Linked DNA regions of Homo sapiens. The protein of the gene in region 2 purifies or fractionates together with the protein of the main gene of each other region. This does not show direct contact. Each region holds a gene or a part of one and is shown on either strand. Other genes may lie near its edges. The genes, in order: DCAF7 and PARD3.

Region 1 (15,026 bases), on a different chromosome or scaffold from region 2:
TGTCTCGAAAGAGAAAACCGAATCCGTTAGAAGATGGAGAGAAACAAAGCGGCAGCTGCTGAAAAGCTTTGTAGTGACTCCCATGCTGGTGAGATTAAGTCCAAAGGGCATGACATATCAGGTAGAGAAGCAGGACAGCCGGGCGCGGTGGCTCACGCCTGTAATCCCAGCACTTTGGGAGGCTGAGGCAGACGGATCGCTAGGTCAGGAGTGCCAGACCAGTCTGACCAACATGGTGAAACCCCGTCTCTACTAAAAATACAAAAAAATTAGCCGGCCGTGGTGGCGCGCGCCTGTAATGCCAGCTACTCAGAAGGATGAGGCAGGAGAATCGCTTGAACCCGGGAAGAGGAGGTTGCAGTGAGCCGAGATCGCGCCACTGCACTCCAGCCTGTGCGACAGAGCGAGAATCCAACTCAAAAAAAAAAAAAAAAAAGAGAGAGAGAGAGAGAGAGAAGCAGGACAGTGTGAAGTCCAAGTTTGTGCCCTCTGCAGTTAGACTGGGTGGCTTCAAACCCTGGTTGTTCCATTTTCTAGTGTATCCTTGGGCAAGTTCCTTTACTTTCCTGTTTCAGTTTCCTTACCATAGAATGGCCTTGTGAGGACTAAATGGGATAATGGATGCAAAGCACAAAAGCATAGATTTTTTATTTTTTATTATATAAGAACCTCCATGGGGCTGGGTGCGGTGGCTCACGCCTGTAATCCTAGCACTTTGGGAGGCCGAGGCTGGCAGATCACTTGAGGTCAGGAGTTCAAGACCAGCCTGGTCAACATGGTGAAACCCCGTCTCTACTAAAAATACAAAAATTAGCCAGGTGCGGTGGGTGCCCATAGCCCTTCATACATGCTTGCACCTTAGCACTTACCTTTTAAAAAAATATCAAAATGTTTATATCTGTTTCTACCGTAATACTAAATTCTCTGAGAGTAGGACTGTACTTCCTATGCCCAACACAGTTCTCATTTTTTAAAAAATTAAGTTTTGACATATTTCACAGATCACACAGATCACCAATTCAAAGTGTACAATGTGTTATAGAATATTCAGAGCTGTGCACAATTGATTTTACATTTTCATCATCCCCAAAAGAAGTCCTGTACCCATTAGCAATCATTCCCTATTTCCCCCCAATTCCCACAGCCCTAGGCAATCACCAATTTACTTCTGTCTCTGTGGGTTTGCCTCTTCTGGACATTTAATATGAATGGGCCCACACACTATGTGGCCTTTGGTAACTGGCTTCTTTCACTTAGCATGATGTTTTCAGGATTCTTGCATGTTGTAGCATGTATCAGTATTTCATTTCTATTGCCAAATAATATTCCATTGTATGAATATACCACGTTTTATTTATCTGTTCATCAGGCAATGGACATGTGGTTGTTTCCACCTTCTATGATGAATAATGAGGCTGTGAACATTCATGTACACATTGCTGTGTGGACCTATGTTTTCACTTCTTTTAGTTATATACCTAGGAGTGGAATTGCTGGGTCATATCATAACTATGTTTAACCTTTTGTGGGATTGCCAGACTGTCTTCTAAAGTGGTTGTATCATTTTACATTCCCACCAGCAATATATGAGGGTTTAATTTCTCCATATCATGAATTTTTTTTTTTTTTTTTTGCTTTGTTACCCAGGCTAGAGTCCAGTGGAGCAATCATAGCTGACTGCAGCATAGAACTCCTGGGCTCAAGTGATCTTCCCATCTCAGTCTCCCAAGTAGATGAGATTACAGGTGTGAGCCACTGGCTAAATTTGTTATTCTTTTTGACTATAGTTATCACCATCCTTGTGGGTGAGAAGTATTATCTCATTGTGGTTTTGATTGTATTTCCTGAATGACTACTAATGGTAAGCATCTTTTCATGTGCTTATCAGCCATTCATATATAGTATTACTTTTTGCAATTTAAAAATAGTTTATTCAGGCCAGGCATGGTGGCTCACACCTGTAATCCCAGCACTTTGGAAGGCCGATTTGGGGCAGATAATGAGGTCAGGAGATCGAGACCATCTTGGCTAACACGGTGAAACCCCGTCTCTACTAATAATACAAAAAATTAGCTAGGTGTGGTGGCACGCGCCTGTAGTCCCAGCTACTCAGGAGGCTGAGGCAGGAGAATCGCTTGAACCCAGGAGGCGGAGGTTGCAGTGAGCCGAGATCGCGCCACTGCACTTGAGCCTTGGTGACAGAGCGAGACTCCATCTCAAAAAAAAAGAAAAAAATATATATGTAATATTTACTTTGAGAAGCAAAAATCAAATTAATGGAATTTGTAATCACAAATAAGTGTAGAGGCTAAAACAAGGTTTGAGACTGCCCTAGTCCAGTCAGCCTGAGACCAGCAAGGGAAACCTATAGTCTCACAGAGTTAGGCTTATCAACTCACTGCAACAAGGGAGACTGCACACCAGAGGAATGGTGAAGTGTCTTACCGAAGAAAAAACTGGTCATAGAATTATGGGGAAGGGTGGAAGTTAGGTGAAAAATTAGAGTTAGGCTCAAAGAAACACAGACCTGTGTGAAAGGCGGATTAAGATCAGCTGGACTACCAAGTGGACCCAGGGGATCAGTTTCCCTGGAAAGTACAAAGTCAAGGTAAATGTGGACTGTTGTGTTCAGAAGCCCCTGCTCTGAAGCACAATACCTGGCCTGGAAATCAAGGCTGCTTCTCTGTCAGAGTGACTCAGCTCCTCCAAGCAAGACTGACTATAAGCCTTAATTCTCACAAATACAATTGCAAACAGCAAACTTTGTCAGCCTATGATTTTGGAGAACGAAATTTCTCAGTGAATTTTTTTAAAACAGTAGTCACTCAGGGAGTTTTGACACTTTATGTTGCCAAAAAAAGAAAAAAAAATTGCAGTGTGTTCTTGATAGAGGTACTATATCCTGTTAACTGTGCAGCTGGTTTTATCTGTCTGTGCATCTGTGATGAATGGCAGGGCAGATTTTAACTCTCAGTCTGAGTTAATAGCCACCTTTCAAGATAAATTCATAGTTGACTGAACCATCTCTAGACGCCTGGCTGTCAGGCTCACTGAAATCACTTAAGTAACAATGAGCCTTGGAAGCTAAAGACTGGCTACAAATATCATTCCATTAGGTTTGACCATGTGTTGTCCAGTACTAACAGCTCTCAATGAATGAGATTACATTAGTTATTAGTCCAGATACTTAGCCGATTTGCTAGTATGGCTGAGACATAATTATTCACTACTTCACTTCCTTTTCCAGGGTACACAGGAAGACTACATTTCTTGACTTGACCTTCCTTGCAGTTGGCAGATAGGAGCAAAAGTGAGTAAGCCACTTCCCGGCCCATCCTGAAAAATGTACTCCCTCCCACCCCCCATAAGCAACCTGGAGGTCACACGTTTATTTTTATTTTTTGAGATGGAGTCTTGCTCTGTTGCCCAGGCTGAAGTGCAGTGGTGCGATCTTGGCTCACTGCAACCTCCACCTCCCGGGTTCAAGCTATTCTCCTGCCTCAGCTTCCCAAGTAGCTGGGACAACAGGCGTGTGCCACCATGCCTAGCTAATTTTTGTATTTTTAGTAGAGATAGGGTTTCACCATGTTGGCCAGGCTGGTCTCGAACTCCTGACCTCAAGCTATCTGCCCCTCCCTCCCCCCTCAGCCTTCCAAAGTGCTGGGATTAGAGAGTTGAGCCACTGCACCCGGCCCAGAGGACTTTGTGTAAGCAAAAAATAAGCTTTTGTAGTGCTCAGTTTCTGAGATTTGGGGGTTTGTTGCCGCAGCATAGGCTAGCCTATAAATAGTATTACTCTCTGTTTTCTCCTTAAAAACCAGAGAGCAGGACTCATGTGTTTCTCACAAAATATACATTGTCAGACCATATAGCAGCACAGTTCCAAAGGACCAGCAGGTACTCATAAAACTTAAATTCTCTGCCAGGCACGGTGGCTCACGCCTGTAATCCCAGCACTTTGGGAGGCCGAGGTGGGTGGATCATCTGAGGTCGGGAGTTTGAGACCAGCCTGACCAACATGATGAAACCCCATCTCTACTAAAAATATAAAATTAGCCAGGCGTGGTGGCACATGCCTGTAGTCCCAGCTACTCAGGAGGCTGAGACAAGAGAATCGCTTGAACCCGGGAGACGGAGGTTGCGATGAGCCGAGATCGCGCCATTGCACTCCAGCCTGGGCAACAAGAGCGAAATTCTGTCTGAAAAAAAAAAAAAATTAAATTCTCAAGAGCACATACTTCCCTTCACAGATCCACTGCCACCGGCTCCATATCAGCTGACACAATGGCAGGTACTTACCGAATACAGGTTCACGGAACCAATCAGTTTGCCTTTCTTCTCTTCCTTCACAGTGGCCCAACATGAAGAATAAAAATATAAATAAATGGGGGTAGTATTTCATCCAGGACACACAGCATTTGAAGAGCAGTGGGATAGGAACTCCCCCACCCTACCGTGTGGGGCATAGGTTTGGGAAATTAGCAGGGACTTGGACATTCCTAGTCAGCCATCAGAACCTGTCCAAATCCAAAAGATCTGGGAGTTATTTCTCTGTCCTCCTTCACAATCAATAAATTACTAAATGCTGATGACTGCATCCCTCTTTACTTGTGCCCTGTCCTCTCCATCCTTGCCGTGGCTGCTGCTGCCGCCGCCGCCTTAGTTCAGGGTTTTTCTCTCACCCTATAAGAAGGAAGAGGCACTTTTTCATTGCCTATCCTTCTAAAATGCAATTCTGATGACTCCTCTCTGTGTATGTTTTCCAGGATCATACAGAAGTGTAATGTCTAAAATTTCTGCAAAGCGGGAGACTTTCCCTGCCCTGGCTCCTGTATACATCTCTAGCTACATTTCCCACTATTCACCCCACCTCAACCTGCAATTCTCTAAATATGACCATACTTTCTTGCCTCCATAGATTTGCACATGGGTGTTCTCTCTGCCTTAAAGGACATTCCCTATTTCCAGATAACTCCTACTCAGCCTTCAAAACCCAGCTTAGGCATCCATCTTAAGTAGTTTTCGCTGACCCCATGTGGCTCCCACACAGGCAGAGGTGATCACCTCCTCCTGAGGGGTGATGCCTAAACACATCCATTATCGCACAACAATGCAAGTTATTTGGTTTTTTTGTTTTTTGTCTTTTAAAAATTTGGGTGGGAGGGGGTAGGGATAAAAGACTACCAATTGGGTACAGTGTACACTGCTCCGGTGATGGGTGCACCAAAATCTCAGAAATCATCATTAAAAAAACTTATTATCCACATAACCAAAAACCACTTGTTCCCCCAAAACTATTAAAATAAAATAAATGCCAGGTGCGGTGGCTCACACCTGTAATCCCAACACTTTGGGAAGCTGAGGCAGGCGTATCACAAGGTCAGGAGTTCGAGACCAACCTGACCAACACGGTGAAACCCCGTCTTTACTAACAATACAAAAATCAGTCGGGTGTTGTGGCACATGCCTGTAATCTCAGCTACTCAGGAGGCTGAGGCAGGAGAATAGCTTGAACCGGGAGGTGGAGGTTGCAGTGAGCCGAGATCGCGCCATTGCACTCCAGCCTGGGTGACAGAGCGAGACCCCGTCTCAAAAAAAGAAAAAAGAAATGCAAAAAAAAAGATTTGTCTTAGATCTTAGTCTGGCTAAAAGAAATTTTTTTTTTTTTTAATAAAAATGACTGATTGATTGAGACAGGGTCTTGCTATGTTGCCAAGGCTGGTCTTGAACTCCTGGCCTCAAGTGATCCTCCCACCTCAGCCACCCCCATGCCTCAGCTGGGATCACAGACCACTGTGCCCGGCCACAAGTATTTATGTAGATGTCTCCTCTGGTAGACTGCAACCAACTTGAGGGCCATGTCCCCTGGCATAGAGGAGGTGCTCCACTGAATTAACAAGTGAATGACTAAATAGGATATAAAAGGTGATGAGTAGACTGCCCGGCTCGGGCTGGGGCACTGCCACTGTCTATGGAACATGACCAAAGTGACAAAATGGGAAGAACTGAATTCGTCACAAAAAGAAATTCAGTCAATCTATACATGTTCAAGTTTTATTACAAAGTATGATGGGCAGAAAATACGGTACTTCTTATACAGGAGGCTGAAACAGAATGAAAGGGTGAAAATTAGGTTTAATTTACTTAGGAAACAAGAAATAGAAAGTCATAGCTATAACACTCCACTTTCAGGTGCCCATGAAGTAGCCTTCAATGGAGATTCCCCATAGTTGTTTCACAGCACAGTGTTAAAATTTTATTACAAGCCCTGTGTACAATCAGTCCTGTGAAAATATTTATAAAAGAAAAATATTACAGTACAGTTCTGCAAGGGGCAGCTTCCTCTACACCTGACCGTGGATGCCACAAAACCTATAATATAGAGGGAAAGTTTAAATATATAACAAGAATGGAAGTTCAGACATACTAGGCTAAAGGACACAGAAATGGATCAGTTAGAGCTTAACATTTCAGAGCAAGAAATCTCCATTTTCTACATAGAGGTTTATACAATCATGCTACAAATTCACTCTGGGTGGGGTGGGGAAGGAAGGTCACTGACAAGAGGGGTAGTAAAATACACAGGAACCAAAGCAAGTGAGTCAGACTCAACTAAATCGATTCAAAGCTTCAGCTCAACAATTTTCATAACACATGGTATACCACAATCAACCCAAGGTGAGAACATTTCTTTTAAATAGTAGATATCACATGTTCATAATCACTGGGTTGTCCCAAAGGTGGGTGCCTATAAACTTTCCAGCTGTTACATAGACTGTCAACATCTTTCTTCTTGAGTTTAAACTTTCTTTAGCTTATTTGTTTCTCGTTGGATATACCAGTCCAAGCCTCTTTGGGAAGGCACCTGCATGTTTCCATATTTTAAAAATGACATCCAGAAAGTAGCCTGAGAGGACCTGGCCCATCCCATGTGGCCACACATTTGACTTTGACCATTAGCAGCAGTGACACTGTGAGAGGGGGAGAAGGTGCAGGTGGGTGAAGTGGGCAAGGGTCTGCAACACGAGACGCTCTCAGGAGCTGGCCCAGCCAGGGCCTGGCCCAGGGTTCACAGTGACTTTGCTCTGCTCCGCCCTCTTCCCTGGGAAAACCAATCTAAGTATCAAGCATGATCTTCCTTCTTCGTCCTGGAGTACACACAGTAAAGGGAAAAGTCTGCTTTGAGGCTTCTACTTCAATGGTCTCCCCTACCCCAAGCCAGGAATGAAAGGGGCTGCCATATTCTCAAAGTGGGGAAGGCAGAGGGACAGTACTGGGCTGCCCTCCCACGTGTGGTAAACCCTGCAGCTGCTACATGTCTTCACAGCCCAGGAATTCAAGGCCCAGGTGGCAGCAGGAAGAAACAGTGGAAAAGCAAGGGGAAGAGAAAAGAGAAAAAGGAGGGGGAAAGTCTGCATAACTGTCATAACCTCTGCTTCTCCTGCTCTGTAACAAACCCACAACCAGGAAGAGTCATGGTCTGGAACAATCATGGGACCCCAAACGCCTGTAGGTTTTTTACCACCAAACATCACCCATGGCTGCTCTAAGCTGTCATTTTGTTCCCACAGTTACCTAGCATCACGGATGCCCAATTTATGGCCCAGGAAGGCTGACCCAGGCTAAGGGCAGTCTCACTCCACAGCCATGCAATGGACAGTCTGAATGTTTCCCTACCCCAGACCTTCACTGACCTCTACTATTTCCTCCTCTGATATAAAGAAAACACTTTAATTTTCTCCTGCATCCTACATCTCCTCCTAAAATTTTGGCCCTAATTGTCATCAAAACCTTGTAGGATTCTGAATTTTTTGTTTCTTCCTGAATCTTAGCCAGTTCTCTCAGAGCCAATCCTGGATTTATAAGGAATTTTCACCTATTTTTTTTTTTTTTTTATTTTTTGAGACGGAGTCTTGCTCTGTCGCCCAGGCTGGAGTGCAGTGGCACGATCTTGGCTCACTGCAAGCTCCACCTCCCAGGTTCACGCCATTCTCCTGCCTCAGCCTCCCAAGTAGCTAGGACTACAGGTACCCGCCACCACCCCCGGCTAATTTTTTTTTGTATTTTTAGTAGAGATGGGGTTTCACCATGTTAGCCAGGATGGTCTCGATCTTCTGACCTTGGGATCTGGCCACCTCAGCCTCCCAAAATGCTGGGATTACAGGTGTGAGCCACCACACCCATCCTCGCCCAGTTATTAAATACCTTCCCTCTTCAAGTCCTAACCTTGCAGGCTAATTCCTCCCTGGAAGAAGAGGATTCCAATGCTCCTGAGCATAAAAAATTCAGGTCCTTGAATGACGTGGACCCATTCTCCAGCTCTCTGGTGGTAGAGGCCTGAGGCCTAATTTATTCAGCACCTCCATCCTTCAGTCAGAACAGATGAGGACAATACAGGCAGCTGTGCCTCAGGCTGCCAGGAGCAAAAGGGCCATCACCAGCTGGGCCACAGCCTGGCGGAGCCTCCATGTGGGCTTCCTGCTAAAGTCCTAGTGGCTGCTCCTCCCGCAGTCAGGGAGAACAGATCCAGGGCCTCCCACCCAGTCTCGCTGGCTGTCAGTTTGAGAACCTCAACAAATTACAGAGTTGTTTTTGCAACTACAACAGATCGGTGCTTTCTGGAGCATGGATGGCTTACAGACTTTCTAAATCCTGAGACTGTAGAAATCCCCTCCTCAGTCATGGGTCGTCGGGCTGGTGGAGTAAAGGGAGGGTAAGAGAGCTGGGACTCAAAGACCAGCAACTCATCAACTGTGAGTATGTGTGTGCTTGCTTAGGGGGGTGGAGTCCCCCTGGGTCCCCGGTGGCATTCAGGGGAAGACTGTACTGCAGGACCTAAGGAAGGATGACAGGAGCTGGGCGTCCACAGGGCAAGGGAAATCTCAAAAGTTGTTGGTTTCCAGAGTAAATAGCTATCTTATGCAAATATGTTCTAATTATTATTTTTTTTTCAAGTTGTTGTTTCTGAGTTCCAGCTGACAAATTCCACCATACAGACCAGGCGTAGGTGCAGATCAGGAAAGGAATCTTAGAACTCAGTGGATGTAAGCCCTGCCCAGCAGACCAGCCCCTTCTACCACTGACTTCCATTTCAGACCCTTCTCCACAGGAAGGAACTGATGGCCTCCTAAACAAGCAGCCATCAGCTTGGCCTTGCTACCCTTGAGAGAAGGACCCAGTAACCATTATCAAACACAATGAAAAGCAGAGGAGGGTTCTGACCAAGAACTGCTCGCTTTGTATCTCCAAACGATGCAGTGCAAATCCAGTGGCAAATGCAGGAGAGGCAACCACAAGCACATGGCCAGCCAGAGTCCTAAAATCAGAACAACAAAGTAAAAGGGTAGAAGGGGAAATATGCTGGCTAAAAAAAGAGCCTTTTTCTTTGGGACAGGTCCCTGTATGGTAAAGCAAAGAGCTAGACTTTTGGCATATAATGACATCTACTTCTGAAAAGGAAGACTTAACCAAAAAAGCTTAAGGGCCCAGAAGAACAAAGTTACTGTTTTACTTCTCAAGCAGGTGAGAACCAAAGAGGACAAAACCATCATCCTTCAGGCCTGCTACTCTACTAATCTCAGATGAGCAATTCAGAGGGACTTAAAAACCTTCGGGTAGGAGCAGAGCGCAAGGAAACAGCCAACTTTCCCCCAAGAGCACATCCCAAACTGCCTGCCCCAAGGGCTCATCTAACGGTGGAATCACACATATGCCCCTCCATGGAACTCATTCACATAACAGAAAGACACCTGCGGCCTGCAAGTCAAAAGACAACTGCAGGCTACAAGTCCAATACTGCTCAGAACCTAAACTGGGGGAGAGAGGGGTTGACAGGTGTGGGTAGAGCTCTTAACTGGCTGACCCTGGGGGTCTATAATTCCTTTTCCTTCTTTTTTTTTCCTCCCTTTTCATTACCCACAGTATAATGCTTTTTAACTATCTATCCACTTGACAGCCCAGGATTGCCGCAGTCCATCAGTCCATCTCTCATGTAAGGTCTTGTTCAGGGTTGGAAGCACAGACAGGATGCCTCGGGAAGACTCTCTCACCTCAGAACACTCAATCCAAAGAATGCCCAATATACCACCAGGCACAGTAAACTCAAACAACAGAAGCACCGAAGTTCAACTCAGATATCATTCTTGCCTATCATTGAAAAGACACTAAGTGGAATGGCCTGGGGCTTATATTTGGATGGAAAAACAGACTCTGAAAGAATGTACTGGAAATATGCTTGAAGTTCAGCTTCATGAAACGATTCCCCTCAAGTCAGGTACCCTGAGAGCCTGTTTCTCTCAGCTCTACCATGCTGCCAGTGGGAACCAATGGGCTGGACAGTGGTGCTTCAGGGTAAACAGAGGCTTCCTATGTCTGTTTACAAGCCCAGAATGCCCTTGAGAGGAGCCAGGCTAAGAAAGGTGTGATGAGTCAGTGGACTTCAGAGCACCAAGGTGGTTTGGACTCCCGGTCAGGTATGTACTACACAGGCAGTGACTCAAGAAGGCAAACTGCTCATGGGGCCAGGGGCCCAGTACCAGCTCCAGGCACTGAGGGAAGAGAAGAAGGTGCAAAGAGGGAGGACTATAAGACAAAGAAATGAAGCAGGAGAGTAAAATTCTTTTCATAAAAAAATTAGCCTGATAGATAACAAATATACAAAGTTAAAATTTGTTAAACACACTGATACTAGGAGAAAAGACAAATTGGTATTTGTTCCCACGTAAGTGCTAACACGAACATGGACATGGACGAGACATGAACTGCTGCCTTGGGCAGCAAACAGAGACACCTGGGCAGAGGAATAGACACAGCCAGTGCGTGAACTGCTCCTCAACACAACGCCTGACAAACAAATATACACACATTTTTTAATTGAGGAACCAAAGGAGAAGAGGAAAGGAGAGAAAATCTTAAAACTCAGCCCTGGGCTGAGGAGGCGCCACACAGCACTGAGTCTGCCACAGAGGGCGATGGGGTGACTGGCCAGGAACTCCTAGAGCAGCTTCTGGTAACAGTGGGTGCAAAGCAATGAAAGACATACTGGCCACTGGAAACATGTTTCTTCTTACTTTGGGGGTGGGGCAGAGGCAGGAAATACAAAAGCCCCTGCCTCGTGGGCACAGCGCCACCAACACTACACTCTGAGTATCTCCAGGCAGTTGTTGTAGCAGATGGCGATCCAGTCGGGCTGAGTTGATGCCCACTGCACATTGTTGATCTCTCCTTCAGCTGTGTAGGCCAGGATAGGGTCCTCAATGGCTCGGGGCATTTGCTGGATGTCCCAGATGAGAGCCTGGTGGTCATCCGCTAGGGACAAAGAAAGCCAGCAAGCAAGGTCACAAGTGAGGCAATGCGGATGATGATCCCTGCATTTCAGGAGCAAGTCACAGTTTACAAAGCACCCCCGTGATGGCGGTTCTATTTTAAGCCCCCATTTTATCGATGAGGAAATCGAGATTCAGAAATGTTAAGGCACTTGTTCCAAATCACACAGCTATTCAGCCAAGTGAGTGGCAGAGCCAGAACTCAAATCTAGGCCCTGACTCCATCTCCCAGATGTCCCCAGGCTCTATCCACTGCACTAATGAGTCCTTCTCATCTGGGTCAGGTATCAGGAGTGGACAAGGGGATACCAAACATGTCATTTGCAGCCACTTAAAATACTTGAGTGGTTACAAAGATCATTCTCTGATCATTCAATATAATGAGAGCGTTTCTTCCCTGTTTGATGGACATTTATGCTTCAGTGAGGTGTTATATAGAAGACTGATAAAGTAGTGCTGATATGTGCTGTTAAAAAATTCTTTCCTGGCCAGGCATGGTGGCTCACACCTGTAATCCCAACACTTTGGAAGGCTGAGGCAGGCGGATCACCTGAGGTCAGGAGTTCAAGACCAGCCTGGACAACATGGTGAAACCCCATCTCTACTAAAAAAAAAAAAAAAATACAAATTAGCCAGGTGTGGTGGCACACACCTGTAATCCCAGCTACTTCGGTGGCTGAGGCAGGAGAATCGCTTTAACTCGGGAGGCAGAGGTTGCAGTGAGCCGAGATCATACCACCGCACTCCAGCATGGGTGACAGAGTGAGACTTCATCTCAAAAAAAAAAAAAAAATCCAAGAAAATAGCTATGGGAAACACCAGAAAGATGGTAATCACTTTAAATATATAAAAGCACATGAAAAATAAGTAGAAGGAAATATATTAAAATGAGAATGATGGCAATACTAAGATGGCAAGGTTAGGATTTATGTTTACTTTTCTCTAGTTCCTAAGTGATTCGTAATGTGCTCATATTACTTTTTTTTTTTTTTTTTTTTAAATGGAGTCTCATTCTGTTGCCCAGGCTTGAGTGCAATGGTGCAATCTCGGCTCACTGCAACCAAAGCCTCCCAGGTTCAAGCGATTCTCCTGCCTCGGCCTCCCAAAATGCTGGGATTACAGGCATGAACCACCGCACCTGGCCTATATTACTTTTATAATCAAAATAGTAAGTTAATTTTTAAAAAAGAAAAAAATAAGGCAATGGCCTTCAGAGCTGCAGTGTACCCTGACTCTGCCATGCATTCTGATGAAAGCTGGTCTCAGATACAAAGAAAATCTGAATAAACTAAACCCTAATAGACTAATTGTGGGCAATACTAGTCTCCTGCCAAGGCCGCATAGTCTGGGCCAGGTGCAAGATCCCTCTCCCAGGGACAATCAATGCCAAGAGGTCAGGGAATTGCACCTCTAGAGCACTAAGGCCCTTTTCCTCAATGCTCAACCGAGCACACTTGAGCAACAGCTCCTTCGGTTGAAGGGGCTCAAGGCAGGTGCAACACACAAAACAACAGCGAGCCAGACAAAGGCAGCAGCCAGGAGCAGAAAATGGGGCTTCTACGGGGCCAGTCCTGCTTTCCATGAATAATGGATGACACCTTTCTTTTCTGCTTCTTCTATCCCTCCCTATCCACACCCCTGGGAAAAAAAAAAAAAGAGGGCAATAATGAAGAAGACAGACCACAATCTGAGGTACAGAAGGCAGCAGCAGGCCCCCAGCTGCTCTTCAAGGAGACATACAGGCATGAGCAGAGGGCCAAAATCAGGAAAAGCTTCATGCCTTCCAAATAATGCTCAAATGGCAGAAAAACACCAGAGTACATTGCTTCTTGGGCTCCATAACAAACCTTGTCCATTATAAGGCTCCTGATTAGTGAGGAGAAGAAAAAAAACACACTAAAAAAGTTAAGGAGCAAAACATCACAGGACTAGGACAGAATCCTATCAGTGCAAAAGGAAGAAGTATATAGTTGTATTTGGGGGCATAGATGTACATCCCTGAAAGTATACCAAAAGGGTCTGGAAGGAGACACATTACCTGTTGATAGAGGTCATCTATGCAGAGGGGGATGGAGGCAGAAATGATATAGGAAGGAGAAAAGATGACTTTCGCCTTGCTCTTAAATATGCTTCTGTACTGTTTTCAATTTAAATAACAGATTGGCATTATTTCTACAATAAAAGTGCATTGACAACCAGCATATTTTTCTTTTTTTTTTTTTGAGACGGGGTCTCACTCTGTCACCAGGCTGGAGGGTAGTGGCACGATCTCAGCTCACTGCAACCTCCACCTCCCAGGTTCAAGCGATTCTCCTGCCTCAGCCTCCCGAGTAGCTGGGACTACAGGCATGTGCCACCACGCCCAGCTAATTTTTGTATTTAGTAGAGACAGGGTTTCACCATGTTGGCCAGGATGGTCTTGATCTCCTGACCTCGTGATCCACCTGCCTCGGCCTCCCAAAGTGCTGGTATTACAGATGTGAGCCACTGCACCCAGCCTTTCTTTTCTTTTTTTAAAATTTATTTTAGAGGCAGGGTCTTGCTTGGTTGCCCAGGCTGGAGTACAGTGGCACAATCACAGCTCACTGTAACCTCAAACTCCTGGGCTCAAGGGATCCTCTCACCTCAGCCTCTAAGTAGCTGGGACTACAGGAATTCACCACCACACCCAGATAGTCTTTTTTTAACTTTCTGTAGAGATGAGGTCTCACTATACTGCCCAGGCTGGTCTTGAACTCTTGGCCTCAAGCAATCCTCCCACTTTAGCCTCCCAAAGTGCTGCAATTACAGGCCTGAAACACTGTGCCTGGCCCAACATATTTTTAAGGGGTACTTTTTTTTTTTTTTTTTTTTTTTTGGAGACAGAGTCTTGCTCTGTTGCCCTGGCTGGAGGGCAGTGGCATAATCTCTGGTCAATGCAACCTCCACCTCCTGGGTTGAAGTGCTTCTCCTGCCTCAGCCTCCTAAGTAGCTTGGACTACAGGTGCGTGCCACCATGCCTGGCTAATTTTTTTTGTATTTTTAGTAGAGACAGGGTTTCACCATGTTTGTCAGGCTGGTCACGAACTCCTGACCTCAGGTGATCCACCCGCCTCAGCCTCCCAAAGTGCTGGGATTACAGGCGTGAACCACTGCACCCAGCCCGTAAGGGGTGCTAGCTTTGGTCTGGGAAACAGTGAAATGAAAACCACAAGTCACAAACCACAACCAGGCAAAGTTCTGTGGGGCCCTCCGATGCATCCAGAGCACACTGTGGGTTTGTTATAGTGAAACCTGAAAGGTCCCATGGAGATGTTGATCTTCACAGTCCCAAAGATTCTGTTATATCCATGAGGGATGCCTCCCTTTCCCCATATTCCTGGAATTGAGTCCTCTGTGCCATCCAGATTTCAGGGGCACAGTACAAGGCACAGCCCTATAACTGACACATGATGTAAATCATATATGGAAGATGTTCTGATGTCCATGAGGGTACAAGATCGTCTAAAAATTTGTACTGATTGAATTTCACAAGTGTGGAGAGGCTCCAACTAGTCATTTTGTATAAATCTCTCAAGACTGTGCTTAGAAAACAGTAACAACTACAATTCTAAGGAGCCAAGAGAACAGATTTCCTCCATCCTTCCCAGATTTCTTTCTCCCCACCATGATTACCTGCAGTGCAGATGTGGCAGGATGAATGTGGGGCCCAAGCAATGCCAT
Region 2 (15,736 bases):
ATGGCAAGAACCAGAAATGTGAGGTGAGCTCCTCAAGTCAGCACATGGCAGAACCAGAATTTCTCCGATTACATCAGATTCGAAAGCCCATGCTTTTATTGTACACTACTTCCCAACGCAACTGGGATATAAAGTGCCTGAACAACACAATCACAGTCAATTAGATCCACTCACTTGTGTAAGAGAAACAGACATTTTGCTTCTAAATTACTTTGCCACCTATGTTGGCCTTGCAGCCATTAAAGCAAATCATTTGACCTCTTTGCATTTATTTCTTAATACAGAAAATGAAGAGATTCATAAATGATACCTTAGGCCCCTTTCCTATTCTAATATACCTTTCTCATTCTAAGAGGGTTAAGCCTAGAGAAAAAATTCATTTTAAAGAAGTCCTTGATGACTAAATCCCCCAATATGAGGTCTAAGACAGAAAGCTCACCTGGCGATATTCTCTACTGGCACTAAGAAAAAGCTTTACATAAAATCACTTCTAACATGGATATAATAAAATGCCTGGAAGCTATGTTAAATTACAGTAATTTCTACAAATATTAATGTCTTTAAAATATTTAAAACTCAGCATAATTCTCATATAGAGGCTATTTTCAACACTCAAGGAATGATGCCTGGCATTTACTTCCATTCCACTCCAGTCTCGTTTAAAAATCTTCAACAGAGTGTCAACAGCTTTCTCCACTGTAAAGTTACTCTTTTTTGCTCCCCTCTCCCCTCTCCCCTCTCCCTCCACTTTCCATGGTCTCCCTCTGATGCCGAGCCGAGGCTGGACTGTACTGCTGCCATCTCGGCTCACTGCAACCTCCCTGCCTGATTCTCCTGCCTCAGCCTGCAGAGTGCCTGGGATTGCAGGCACGCGCCGCCACGCCTGACTGGTTTTTGTATTTTTTGGTGGAGACAGGGTTTCGCCATGTTGGCGGGGCTGGTCTCCAGCTCCTGACCGCGAGTGATCTGCCCACCTGGGCCTCCCGAGGTGCCGGGATTGCAGACGGAGTCTCGCTCACTCAGTGCTCAATCTTGCCCAGGCTGGAGTGCAGTGGCGTGATCTCAGCTCGCTACAATCTCCACCTCGCAGCCGCCTGCCTTGGCCTCCCAAAGTGCCGAGATTGCAGCCTCTGCCCGGCCGCGACCCCATCTGGGAAGTGAGGAGCCTCTCTGCCTGGTCGCCCATCGTCTGGGATGTGACGAGCCCCTCTGCCCGGCTGCCCAGTCTGGGAAGTGAGGAGCGCCTCTTCCCAGCCGCCATCCCATCTAGGAAGTGAGGAGCGTCTCTGCCCGGCCGCCCATCGTCTGAGATGTGGGGAGCGCCTCTGCCCCGCCGCCCCATCTGGGATGTGAGGAGTGTCTCTGCCGGACCGCCACCCCGTCTGGGAGGTGAGGAGCGTCTCTGCCCGGCCGCCCCGTCTGAGAAGTGAGGAGCCCCTCCGCCCCGCAGCTGCCCTGTCTGGGAAGTGAGGAGCCCCTCCGCCCAGCAGCCGCCCCGTCTGGGAAGTGGGGGGCAGCCCCCGCCCGGCCAGCCGCCCCGTCCGGGAGGGAGGTGGGGGGCGCGTCTGCCTGGGCGCCACCCCGTCCGGGAGGTGGACCCAACAGCTCATTGAGAACGGGCCATGATGACGATAGCAGTTTTGTCGAGTAGAAAAGGGGGAAATGTGGGGAAAAGAAAGAGAGATCAGATTTTTACTGTGTCTGTGTAGAAAGAAGTAGACATAGGAGACTCCATTTTGTTCTGTACCAAGAAAAATTCTTCTGCCTTGGGATGCTGTTAATCTATAACCTTACCCCCAACCCCGTGCTCTCTGAAACATGTGCTGTGTCCACTCAGGGTTAAATGGATTAAGGGCGGTGCAAGATGTGCTTTGTTAAACAGAGGCTTGAAGGCAGCAAGCTCTTTAAAAGTCATCACCACTCCCTAATCTCAAGTACCCAGGGACACAAACACTGCGGAAGGCCGCAGGGTCCTCTGCCTAGGAAAACCAGAGACCCTTGTTCACATGTTTATCTGCTGACCTTCCATCCACTATTGTCCTATGACCCTGCCAAATCCCCCTCTCCGAGAAACACCCAAGAATGATCAATAAATAAATAAATAAAAAAATAAATAAATAAATAAATAAAATAAAAAATAAAAGTCTTCAACAAATGTGTCCTTTGAGGTAAGTGAAAACAATTTTTCTCTTCTTACTTTGTGTATTCCAAAACTGAAACGATGGAAAAGAATGCAGGGACTCAGTTTTTCTCTAAAAAAGTGAAATCATCCTTTAAGGGCTTTAAACAATGGGAAGCCATCTCTTTTTCTTTGAAGAAAGAAAAAAGAAAACAAACAATGATGGTTTATACAATGTTTTTAAGTGTAGTTAGATAAAACCATTAGATCTAAGAAAAGAAGGAAAGCAAAGGAAATAAAAATTACTGCCCTCAAAATCACTTTGTTTGCCTTGTCTGAGGGTGACTCTGGAATTTCAGTTTCTAATACTAACAAGACCTGTCTTTCTTCAAAAAAAAAAAACAAAAAAAAAACGCCAGATGGTAGCAGGCACTTGCAGTCCCTGGCTAACACGGTGAAACTCCATCTCTACTAAAAAATACAAAAAATTAGCTGGGCGTGGTGGTGGGCACCTGTAGTCCCAGCTACTTGGGAGGCTGAGGCAGGAGAATGGCGTGAACCCGGGAGGCGGAGCTTGCAGTGAGCTGAGATCACGCCACTGCACTCCAGCCTGAGCAACACAGCGAGACTCTGTCTCAAAAAAAAAAAAAAGCCAGACTCTCCAGGGTTGCTCTTCGTCATTCAGCCTGTGCTGATGTGTCAGGCCTGGGTTGGATACCAGCAAAGGATACACAGGAAAGTGGTAGATGGACCAAGCCCTGGCAGTCTCAGAATCCACATTCCAGCAAAAGAAAATCAAAGAGGAAACCATGATAGTGTGACAGCTGCTGGGTGAAGGGGAGTACACGGGGCTATGAAAATCCTTTGGAAGAGAAAATGGAAAATGAAAGACTGCGTTAAGTCTTTGCTAGGATGAGGGGCAGATAGACTCAAGTGGAAGACCTAGAGGTGTAAAAGAGCATCCCATGTCTGAGAAATTACCAGAAACACTGAGTGGCTAGAGCAGAGGTGCTGCAGGGGCTGTAGGGCACCGATGACAATCAGGCATGTCCCAGTGGTCCCCATGATGGAGACTGGTTGATCCTGGAGACATGGAAAGCCTCTGAAGGGATTTCAGCAGGGACTGACGTGATTAATGTGTTCTGTAGAAAAATTTGCCTGACTGCAGTGCAGAGAATGGATTGAGGGAGAAAGCCTGATTGCAGAGAAAACCCTCAGGGAGCTGCAGCAGTGCGCCTGGTGAGAGGATGAGGTCTGAACTCAGGCAGTGGGAGAGGGGAAAGAGGGGAGCGGCTAAAGGAAGAGAGATTCTAGGCCAGGCGCAGTGGCTCACAGGCGTAATTCCAGCACTTTAGGAAGCTGAGGCCAAAGGATTACTTGAGCCCAGGAGTTTAAAACCAACCTGGGCAACATAGTGAGATCCCATCTTTAAAGAAAAATTAGTTGGGTGTGGTGGTGCATGCCTGTGGTCCCAGCTACTAGGGAGACAGGTGGCAGGATTGCTTGAGCATGGGAAGTCGAGGCTACAGTGAGCCGGGGACTATACCACTGCACTCTAGCCTAGGCAACAGAGCGAGAGAGCAAGACGCTGTCTCCAAAAAAGAAAAGAGGGAAATTCTAGAGGTAGAAGCAACAGGCAACAGGGATAGGGACAGCATTTGAGAGGTCAAGGGTGACCCCAGATCTCTGCCTTCTACAACAGAAAGAATGTGGTGCCTTGTGAATTAGGTGCCCATAAGACATACCAGGAAATATTTCCCTAGGCAGGTGGACAGAGGGATCTGGTGCCAGAGTGGACCTGTGAGCTGGAAAGAGGATGATAGTATTCATCCTAACAAGTGGTTTCAGGCAGCAAGGGAGTGGAGATCAGCTAGGGAGCAAGAGCAGAGTAAAAACAAACAGACCTGGTGGGGCGCAGTGGCTCACGCCTGTAATTCCAGCACTTTGGGAGGCCAATGTGGGCAGATCACAAGGTCAGGAGTTTGAGACCAGCCTGACCAACATGGTGAAACCCCATCTCTACCAAAAATACAAAAAATTAGCTGGGCATGGCGCACACCTGTAATCTCAGCTACTCACGAGGCTGAGGCTGGAGAATCACTTGAACCCGGGAGGCGGAGGTTGCAGTGAGCCAAGATCACGCCACTGCACTCCAGCCTAGGCAACAGAGTGACACTCCGTCTCAAAAAAAAAAAAAAAAAAAAAACAAAACAAAACCAAACAAAAAAACAGACAACAGACCCAGAGGAACTTTGAGAGACAGGAATAATGAAAGAACAGGCAGAAAAGAGGAACCCTTAGAGAAGACCCGGAGTAGGGTAGCAGAAAACTAGAGAGAGTACATAGGAGACACTTTGAGAATGACATAGTGCCTGCAGATTCCTGGAAGGCTAAGCAAAATAGGCTAAGAAATAGCTCCCAGAGAATGTCTCCAATGTGCCCTGTCGCGACTAATGTTAGGGAAATACAGGGCTTTAACATAATACCTAGTGAAGGGAGCTGACAAATAAATTTAAAGAAAACACATTGGACCAGGTGAGGTGGCTCATGCCTGAAATCTCAGCACTTTGGCAAGCTGAGGCCAGGAGTTGGAGAACAGCCTGGACAACATAGCAAGACCGTGTCTCTACAAAAATGAAAAATAAAGAAGACATATTAAGATAATACACAGCACTTCCATGTATAAGAGAAAGAAAAATGTGACAAAGAACAAAAGATTTTCTTTTACACATTCTTACCTTCCCTAACTAGAAATTAAATATGCAAACCTTGGATTTAAAGATGAGATAGCAAAATACAGTTTTCTGATTGGCAAAGACTGGACTATACAGCTGATTAAAAGACCTAGAAAGAAAACTCAGCACATTATTTTGGCTTGAGATTTGTTCAGGACAGCAGGATGCCCTGTGCTTATATCAATATTTACTATAACATAATTTACACATACCCTCCCAGTGTGCAAAGGAGAAGGTTTTCCTAAGGTAATGCATAAGTACAACAGCTGAAAAATCATGTCTTATACCTTACTGGAAGCTGAATTGAGATCTTCTGTCTTCATGTAATTCTTTAGTTAAACCCTATCAGTACAAAAGGGTTCTTGCTAGTATTACAAAGATAGCACAGCACTCATAAGATTTTTTGATATAATTGCTTTATAAGCTTATGCTGTCCTAAGAAATAGTAATAACCAGCAATGTATGAAAATGATACCATAAGGAATATTGAATATTAAAGTCTATTACTGTCTACTGCAGCTGTTTCCTTACTTAAATCATATTCATTCACAAAAATTCATATGGAGAAGTGAATAAAACACAGAGATATTTCAGGGGGATTCCAATTTCACATCTCTTACAGGGAATAAAATCAGTGCTTTTATCAAAACATTTTCAGGCAGGTACAGGTTTACTTTGTCACTATTTGGGGGGAACAATAGGGAATAATCTGAATCAGATAAAAGCAGAACACTGATCTTCAGTTCATTTCTGCATTTTAAGTCCTCCTGTAGCATTCAATGTTTTCTGTGAAGGAAAACATTGAGAAGGTGTTAAAAATTTTAATTGGTCTCTAAAAGACTAAGGTGATACGTTGTCCAGTAGAATGCATGCCATCTGTCTTATTCACTGCTATGTCCTCAGGATCTAACACATTTTCTGATACACATAAGATGCTCAATAAATATCTGTGGAATGAAAACTGTCCTGTGTAATGGGAAAGTATTCAGGTGGCCAAAATAAAAAGGCCTAAAAGAGAATGATATGTTTTGTAAACTTACAGTTGAGATGTTTTCATATAGTGCTTTGTGGGACTTAAGTTAAAAGATCAGCTAATGATTTTGCAATGAGTAAAAACTACTATTCAATCAGTCCAGGAGGGACGGAAAAGAGAAAAAAATATCAGTCCAGCATCCTACTGTGAGGGATTAGCTTTTATATTTATCTTACATAAATGAATGTTTGTATGTCCCACTCTTCTCCACTCTGAGATTTTTTAGTTAAGGTTATGTTGTTCTCTTGATATCGCAATTAATTTGTTGATTACTGTTAACTCATTCTACATTTGGCAAATAAAAACAACAAAATAATTCAGTGGTCAGTGATCTTTCAGAATACGTCACCTCTATATTGACTACCAACTGAGCTCGAGAGTATATTTTCTCTGTAAAATATGCTTGTATCATAGGTTCAGATGAGTGGTCACTGCAACCTGAAAACGGTGCTTTATGTGTTTATTAAACAGAAGTTTAAAAATTAAGAAAAACTCTTAAACAACTTAGGTATAATTTTCAGTTTGTATTATTTGCTAATCATTTTATCTTAGTTGATTTGATCTTAAAATGTGGGAATCTGAACATTGATTTAAGAAAAACTTCACATTTTCAACAGCTCATTTTGCACATGGGCAAGTCTGACCTATTTTCTACAGTTGGCACATAATTTATAATGGATCCATGAAATTTAGCTTTTTTCAAGCTCCAATATTATCAAGGCAACATATAATTTATTTTTAACTTTCAAATGTCCTATTATACAACAAAGTATGTTTTTCCATATTTGGGAAAATAGATGATCCTACCTTTCAAGAGAGGATGCCCTGTGTCCTCCTCACCCCTAATTCCAAACTGCAACATACATTTAGAACAAGCAGAGTATAATACAATACAGATCACTGAAAAAGGAGGCATTCTAAGAGAACAGACTCAATCCCATAGAGAAAGAGAAAATGGGGACTGAGGAAAGAGAGGGAGGTATATGCTATTGATAATCTCACAAGAGAACACCATCATCTAAGAAAGCCAGACTGTGGGCCAGGTGCTATGGCGCGTGCCTGTAATCCCAGGACTTTGGCAGACTGAGGCAGGAGAATCCCTTGAGCCCAGAAGATGGAGGCTGCAGCGAGCTGTGACCACAACACTGAACTCCAGCATGGTCAACACAGTGAGATCCTGTCTCAAATAAAAAAGAAAGGACAGGGAAGGAAAGACTGTTCCCTACTAGGGGCTTTGTAAGAGGCATCCCATTTTAAATAAATGAATAAGCAACTGTTTCTCTGCATGATTCACCTCCCAGGTATAACTCTGCCAACTAGAAGAGAAACTGTTGGCTCTGAGAAGGAAGATGTGACCCTGATTTCAAGAAAAAATTCAGCTAAAGGGGCTTTTGAGATCCCAGTGTTTCCTGCTGAGTTGGCAATAGGAGTATTAATGTCCACTTAGGAATATGTTGATCACAAGAATTAAGAACACAAACCACAATCCACCTACAAAATAATAAAACTACAATAAGCAAAGATAATTTATGGTCTTTTGATGTAAGGTCCTGGAACCTAATACCCTTTGCCCAAAATTAGGACAGAAATGTAGTTTATTTACAATTTTAGATACTAGCACTTTTTTGCATTTCTTACCTCATTGCACTTGCTTATTCTCCTTGCAACAATAAGCTGGATCATTCCTCGTTTATTGCCTTCAGTAGACATAGACCTTCTTAGGGTTTCCATGGCATCTTGGTTTGTCTTGCCCAACAGGGATTCTCCATTTACTGCTATCAGTTGATCATTCACCCGAAGCCTTCCATCCTGGGAAGAAAACAGGTAAAAATAAGTGCTATTAAACAGACTGCTATAAAAGAAGTAGCTTTTCCTTTAGTTAATAAATAAAATAAAAACAAAGCAAAAAAAAAAAAAGTGGGGAGCTTTAATCCTAATGGATTATGCCCAATTGAACGCTGGCATAATAACGTCTAAGCAGCTATTGTAGCCTGTGTCTATTTCAATCATTTATACATTTGTAAATCAAGTCATTATCATAATCTGTTTACCAAAATAGCATACTAATTCAAAGGACACAAAGTGATTACTTTCTTGCTTCCAGAAACACCCATAGAGGTTATTTAGAAACCAAGACATGTAAAAGCTCAAGGCTATTAGACAGTTGCAGAGAACTGTCCCCTTAACAAATGGCCAGGAAATTTTCTCTAGGCTGAGAAATAGAGTAAGTGACCCACAAACAGGGGAGGGGAGGGGAAAGATTAACGTCTACTATACGCCCATTCTGTGACAGGACCTATGCCAAGTCTTTGCATTGATTAACTTCATTTAACTAGCATGTCAATGGGTTGTATGTTCTGTGAGAGAAAAAATGAAAGGTTGAAGTTATGGACTCCATCCCCACGTGACACATCACTGATACACCTAGTTGTTTAAATGTGAATGTGGGTACCATAAAGAAATGAGAAAACTTCTGTTAACTGTATATGTTTCCAAAATAGGAACAGGGTTGAAATTAAAATTTTTGTTAATAGGCATACGCATGATAAAGTTGACACTCACTTTAGATGCTGCTCCTCCATTAATAATGGACTTGACAAAGATTCCCAAATCTGCGTGGTTCTCTTTTGACCGGTTACCTTTGACACTGACACCAAGGCCTGCAGATCCTGAATCATTAAGTGGGACTTCAAATGTCAGAAATTCCCTGGTGCCATCAGGTGTAAGAACAATATCCTCATCTTCTGCTTTCTAATAGGGAACAAAATTGCACAGCACATTATAGTCCAATGTTTCTTTCTCAAAGTTATTTTTAAAGACTGCTAATGAGCAGTTCCTTAATCATAAGAGGCAAAATATTTCCATGAAGGTTCCACAGCAAGATCCATGAAAACACTACATCTGCACCCACTCCAGAAGATTCTTGGAACCAGCTGTTAATATTTTTATGTAGCAATTATTCAATATTGAACCAAACTTAAATCAGATTTGAGAAAGATAGAGGGAAAATGTAGTGGAAGGACTAAAGACTAGTAGATTTCTAGAGTTCGGGATTTTTTTGGTGTAATCATATATTCTAAACGACAAGAAAAACAGTAACAATGGGAGTAAAAATAAATAAATATAATTCATTTATCTCCCTTTTTATGAGGAAATTCTGAAGTTATCAATATATTTAATGTTCACTAATGGTGTTTATTCACAAAAAATAACAAATCCTGATCATACAAAATCAGCAGAAAAAGGTATATGGGTTCAGAGAGCCTCTAAAGAATTCTAACATCAACATCTGTGAGACAAAGTAGAGATATACAACATCACAGAAAACTTTTCCACAATATTGTAGCATACATAATATAGCTGGTAAATATTATTCAGGTAATCTTGTTTAATTAGTTAAGATTTAACTTCATAGTCACCAAGCATAGAAGGAAGACTTTTTAAAATAAAAAACATTTAGGATATACAAATTATTGTTCACCTCCCTTAAAACAGAGGAAGAAATGAAAGCTTAATGTAGAACTGAATAAAATGCATTAAGATGACAGCCTATCATTAAGAAAGCCTACACTCCAGAAGAGGAAGCACTCAGCCTTCTGAGCTCCTCCTCCTCAGCAATCCCGCCCATGACCAAGATTTCCACCATCTCTATACTGGTCATGTCCAAATCAGTAAGGCTAGGATGCTTGTTCAAGCACAAACTCTTGCTCCAACCACATAACAGACACGTGGCACAGGCTCTTCAAGTAAAAACTGAATGGCACATCTAGTCCTACAACCTATTTCTCCTCCTCTTTTCCCACGTTTGAAATATTTCTCCAGCATCTGTTTAGTCATTCAAGCTTGACTTATCAAATTATAATTGAAGAATAAGAAATACAGTGGTACACAGATATGTAGGAATATATACTTTAAACAGATTGTGCTTTTACAGAATGTTCAATAACACAAAAAAAGTAGGTGACTGCATCCTACCAAATTTTTAAAATGTCCTAATAAGAATAAAAATCAACCCAAGGAATTTGGAATTCAAGGAAATTTGGAATGCAAGGAATTTGGGGCATAAACATGCAATCTCAGATGTCTCAATTAGATAAAATACATTTTGAGAGTACACTATCTGTAAGTGAATTTTTTAGATCATCATAAAATAAGCAATATGCTATTTATAAATCTTTAGACCCATAGTAATGTGATGTTTCTAATTTACAAATATGTAAAGTTAACATTTTATGGTAGGACATCTTTGTGCTATCTCAAAGGATGGCCTGATAGTTTTTAAAGACAAGTAACACTTCAATTACAATAAACTTGCTAATGGGTTAAAAAAAAAATTAAAACTTATATAATGAAGAACTCAAAATAAGAATCTGAAAAAATACAGAGTAATAGTCATGTTAACTATGCAAAGTAAATACATTTATGATCAAAGTCCAAATAAAGCCTTAAGCCTGCTCATCATAAAAACTAGATTTAAAATATTCCCAGGCTGGGCGTGGTGGCTCACGCCCATAATCCCAGCACTTTGGGAGGCCGACGCAGGTGGATCACGAGGTCGAAGCAGGTGGATCACGAGGTCAGGAGATCGAGACCATCCTAGCTAACATGGTGAAACCCCATCTCTACTAAAAATACAAAAAATTAGCCAGGCGTGGTGGCGGGCACCTGTAGTCCCAGCTACTTGGGAGGCTGAGGCAGGAGAATGGCGTGAACCTAGGAGGTGGACCTTGCAGTGAGTGGAGACCATGCCACTGCACTCCAGCCTGGGCGACAGAGCAAGACTCTGTCCCATAACAAAAAATAAAATAAAATAAAATATTCCCAGAGAACAATTTTAGCTCAAATAAAACCAATGTATTGTGGGCAAAAAAAGATCAAATATATCAAATACTTTGATACAAAAGTATCTTTATATACATGCTTTGCTCTATAAACATGAATATTCAATATACTTTTTATTTTGGTCCATGTAGCTCAAAACAAGTGTTTTTGTTGTTTGTTTTTTTGAGACAGTCTCACTCTGTCACCCAAGGTGGAATGCGGTGGTACAATCACTACTCACTACACCTTTGACCTCCCCAGGCTCAGGTGATCCTCCCACTGCAGCCTCCAGAGTAGCTGGGACTACAGGAACATGTCAACAAACCGGGCAAATTTTTGTATTTCTTTAGAGATGGGGTTTCACCATGTTGGCCAGGCTGGTTTCAGACTCCTGGGCTCAAGCAATCCACGCACTTTGGCTTCCCAAAGTATTGGGCTTACGTGCCCAGCCCCTTGAAACATTTACAGAGTACGAAATAATGACTATGTGTGAATGAACTGCACTACCTCAATATAAAATCTGTTACAAGAATATAAAGTACGGTAAATTTTGATGTTTAAAATACAAAACAACATCAATACACATCATAGTTCCCCTTGACTTTAAATTTGGAGGTTGCTGAAATAAAAAATTATTCTGTCAATCAGTACTTATAAGCATGGAAAAGCTACATTTGAAAAAATGGAAAACAAGAATATTCTTTCTATGGACACACCTAAGTCTCATCACTCACTATGCTTACTTGCTTCAACTCTGGAAGGTTCTTAATTGTTACTTTCTGATTTGAATCTTCAGTTGCCTTTTCAGTGTTTACTGAGTTTTACATTTCCATAACATTTTACCAAGGCTTACAATTCTCATATTTTTCCTACTTGAAAGATCAGGATAAGGAGCTGGCTGCATATATGAAGAAAAATTTTAATCAAGTTGCAATATTTTCTGATTGCTGAACTCTGAACCTGTTTTAAAGAAGAGCATATTCTCCAGGGGATAGTTTATTTATTATAACAACTGCAGAATGGGAATAATCTTTTTCAGCTTTCTTACCAAGTCTTAAGTCATTATTATCATTAAGAACACTGATGTGAAACATTGTATGTTTCATGTGATATTCCACTATTAATCCATTTGGCTTTTGACATAGACAGAAATTAATGCCAGCTTTTAGAACTTAGTTCTCTGGCAGAAAAATGTTTTTTAAAAATTGTGCTCTTCAAAAATCATTTGAAATGCTATATTACTGAGAATGTTCATAAAGTCAGATAGTATAGGAATCTCCATATTCTGATGTAAAATAGAAACTAACTTTCTATCACCTTGCTATTCCATCCAAATTCTGCACCTTATCAACTGTTTCTCGAATTAAGATCTTTCTACAGAAACGCAAAAAATGTCTTTTCTTTAACTCACTCCTCATGTCATCTGGGCACAGTCATGTCACTCAAGCACACCTGCCTCACGCACATACATGTGTGTATACCTCAAGTGATTGTTTTCAGCAACAAAGCCTGTCAGTTCTTCCTTTGCCCATTTCTCCATTACCATTTGTTGTCTTTAAATGCCCAGAATAAAAGGGCACCTTTGCTAAGGAACCTGCTGAATGGGTATTGTGAAAGCTACTTACTATCCCACCCTCCAGAGAACAGCAGAAAAGATGTACATTTCTATCTGCAGTGAGACAAAGAGTCACAAGTGGGCACCATCATGGCCCCCTTTTCCTTCTTCCCGAAATCACAGTCCAAAAAACTGAGAATAGAGCTGGCCTATAGGCCCAAATCCACAGTTAATCTGCAGCAAAGGTGTTATCTATAAAAAAGGAAATAAGAGTTGATTGTGTCAAGCAGCAGAAAAACAATCATGGGAAGGGTAATCTCTGAGCCGCAACAAACGAAAATTTGGATGAGAATGTACAAAATATTGTGAAGAGAGGCAAAAGAAACATGGAATGTGCACAAATGATAGAAGACCATAAAATTATAGGAGTGAGCTCAATAGCCGATTTTTGGCTTTGTAACAAAATACGTGACTCAGCAAAAGTTTCATCACTCCACTATAAATCATTAATTTCTCTCTCTCAAGATCTGCCCTTATCTACAGAATTATCTTTTTTTTTTTTAAAGACAGGGTCTTGCTCTGTCATCCAGGCTGGAGTGCAGTGGCATGATCATAGCTCTCCATAACCTTGAACTCCTGGACTCAAGTGATTATCCCGCCCTCAGCCTCCCAAGTAGCTAGCTGGGACCCCAGGCACACCACCAAGCCTGACTAACTTTTTCTCTTTTTTGTAGAGACAGGGTCTTGATATGTTGCCCATGCTGGTCTCAAACTCCTGGGCTCAAGCAATCCTCCCACCTTGGCCTCCCAATATGCTGGGATTATAGGCAAGAGCCACCATGCCCAGCTGAGTTATTAGCAAATAGCTAGTAAATTAATGCAAAAATCCCTAGTAAATTAATAACAAAAAGATAAGCAGTCTGCATCAAACAGGAAAAGGATGTAAACAAGCCATTCACTAAAGAAAGATGAGCAAACCAATAAATCAACCTCCAAGTACAAGGTTCAATCTTACTCGCAAATCAATCAAAGGTTATCAAATTGCTCCATATATTTTCTTCAAATTAATGATATCCAACAAATACTGCTTTGCCATAGAACACTAAAAAATAAATAAAAATAATGATATTTAATACTGGTGTGGTGAAATGCGCATGTTCTTGCACTGCTGGTGAATGTAAAAAAATGGTACAATATTTATGGAAACCAATTTGACAATGCTTACCTAAACCTTCTACAGTTTGCCATTTTCTTAAGCTAGAAATATTACTTTTAGTGATATGGCCTACAAAAATAGTTGTGATCATGTACCAAGTTTTAACTGTGAGGATATTGTTTTAATTACAATAGCTAAAAATTGACATGTATGAAAGTCAGGAAAATTAAGATCTATCTACACAATGGAATGCCATTCAGCTAATAAAGTGTCTTAGCAAAATAATATGTAAGACAAGAAAGTATTTGTGACTAAGAAATTGAGTTTTACCCTTTGGACTTCCATAACTTCCAGTACACCCATCAAAAACCTCCATAACATATTTTTATGAATTAATGTCTGCCTTCAAAGATCACTAGAAGCTTCACAAGGTAGGAATTTATGTCAGTCTTCACTCGTGCCTGGGGCATGACATTTATTAACAATAATAGGATATGTGGCTGGGACATGATACATATTAGTTAAATAGGTAGACAAGAACATCTTTTTACTTATTTATTTTTTCTGAGATGGAGTCTCGCTCTGTTGCCCAGGCTGAAGTGCAGTGGTATGATCTCAACTCACTGCAATCTCGCTTCCTGGGTTCAAGCAATTGTCCTGCCTCAGCCTCCCAAGCAGTTGGGACTAAAGGCGTGAGCCACTACACCTGGCTAATTTTTATGTTTTTAGTAGAGACAGGGTTTCGCCATGTTGGTCAGGCTGGTCTGAAACTCCTGACCTCAGGTGACCCGCCCACCTTGGCCTCCCAAAGTGCTGGGATGACAGGCATGAGCCACCAAGCCAGAACAAGAAAATCATTTAAAAAAATACATTATCTTTGGCTAGGCTCACAGACACAAATATATATATGAAAAAATACATTAAAATGATGATACTGAAGTCACAGAATTACAAGTGATTTTAATTTTCTTCTACACATGACTGAATTTTCTACAGTTGATATGCATTATTTTTACAATACAAAAAATCCATTGTATACCACTTCTTTAATTCTGCTTCCTCAAAAAAACACTGCATGGGGGAGGAGAAATTGATAGAGGGTTATACAGATGGTCCACAACTTACAATGTTTCGACTTAATGATTTTTCCACTTTTGATGGTGCCCATGAAACCATTCTGTTGTTCACTTTCAGTACGGTATCCCATAAATTAGATAAGATATTCAACACTTTATTGTAAAATAACTTTGTGTTAATTATTTTGCCCAACTGAAGGCTAAGGTAAACCTTCTGAGCACATGAGGTAGGGTAGGCTGGGTTACAGCGTTGTAGGTTAGGTGTATAAATGCATTTTCATCATAACAATATTTTCAACATAGAGTGGGTTTACTGACAAATTTATGGGGAAGTAACCCCATCATAAATTGAGGGGCACCTGGATATGATGGGCAGGGGCTGTTGCTTGGGACAAAGATGGGCTATGAATGAGCACCTTAGGACAGCTCTAAAAAAAACCATGCCATGACAGCAGACCATCATAGCGTCACGCAGAATAGAAATTTTCATAGACATTAAAGAGAGAATATACTTATTCAACAAACAGAGATTAAATAATATGCAGGTAGGTATCTGAGACAATATGAACAACCATTTATATTTTTAACTAAGAGAAAGATTTTTTAAATGGAGAAATTATCATGGTTTTAAAATTTTTCTTAAATTTTTCTTAAATTTAAGAACCATGATAAACCTCTTAATAAAAGAATAACCCTCCAAAGAGACTCCAAAATTTCCTTAAGTTCCCCATTTTAATTTATCCCGTATGTGAGATGAACATTTCTGTATGTTATTTGTGTTGATATTATAAAGTTCATTATTCTTATCAGTAAAGTTCAAATGTCATATCTGGCTTTATAATGCCTTTTCTAATTCGAATGGTAGATGCCAAATACATTTTGAAAGACTTTTAAATTTTTTGCTTGGTAAAATAATGCTGAGGAAAAAATGTTTTGCACAATTATTAATCTCTAATGTTAACTCCCAAAATACTCACCCAATCAAAGAAACATCAGACAAACTCAAATTGAGGGACATTCTCAAAGTAATCTGCCCCTTCAAAAATTAAAAATTTGCCTGGAGTAATTTGTTCTTGAGAAAATATTAACAAACGTAATAGGTTAAAGGAGATTAAAGAGCCATGAGAACTTACTGCCATACATGATCCTGAATTGGAAACAGGACCAAATTCTATTCATACTTGTATTTCATTCATTCTCTCATTCATTTATGATATAAAGAACATTAATTGGGACAACTG

Evidence for each region.
Region 1: the proteins of PARD3 (region 2) and DCAF7 purify together in Homo sapiens (affinity purification with mass spectrometry; 2 studies listed by BioGRID and IntAct, with this or other methods). This does not show direct contact.

What each region holds. Positions count from the first base shown.
Region 1 is NC_000017.11:63,585,281-63,600,306, reverse strand, and holds the end of DCAF7 (DDB1- and CUL4-associated factor 7), read right to left. Parts: coding exon 14,979-15,026; intron 11,308-14,978; coding exon 11,135-11,307; 3' UTR 6,041-11,134; downstream 1-6,040. UniProt on the Homo sapiens protein: Involved in craniofacial development. Acts upstream of the EDN1 pathway and is required for formation of the upper jaw equivalent, the palatoquadrate. The activity required for EDN1 pathway function differs between the first and second arches.
Region 2 is NC_000010.11:34,351,622-34,367,357, forward strand, and holds part of PARD3 (partitioning defective 3 homolog), read right to left. Parts: intron 8,639-15,736; coding exon 8,450-8,638; intron 7,697-8,449; coding exon 7,526-7,696; intron 1-7,525. UniProt on the Homo sapiens protein: Adapter protein involved in asymmetrical cell division and cell polarization processes. Seems to play a central role in the formation of epithelial tight junctions. Targets the phosphatase PTEN to cell junctions.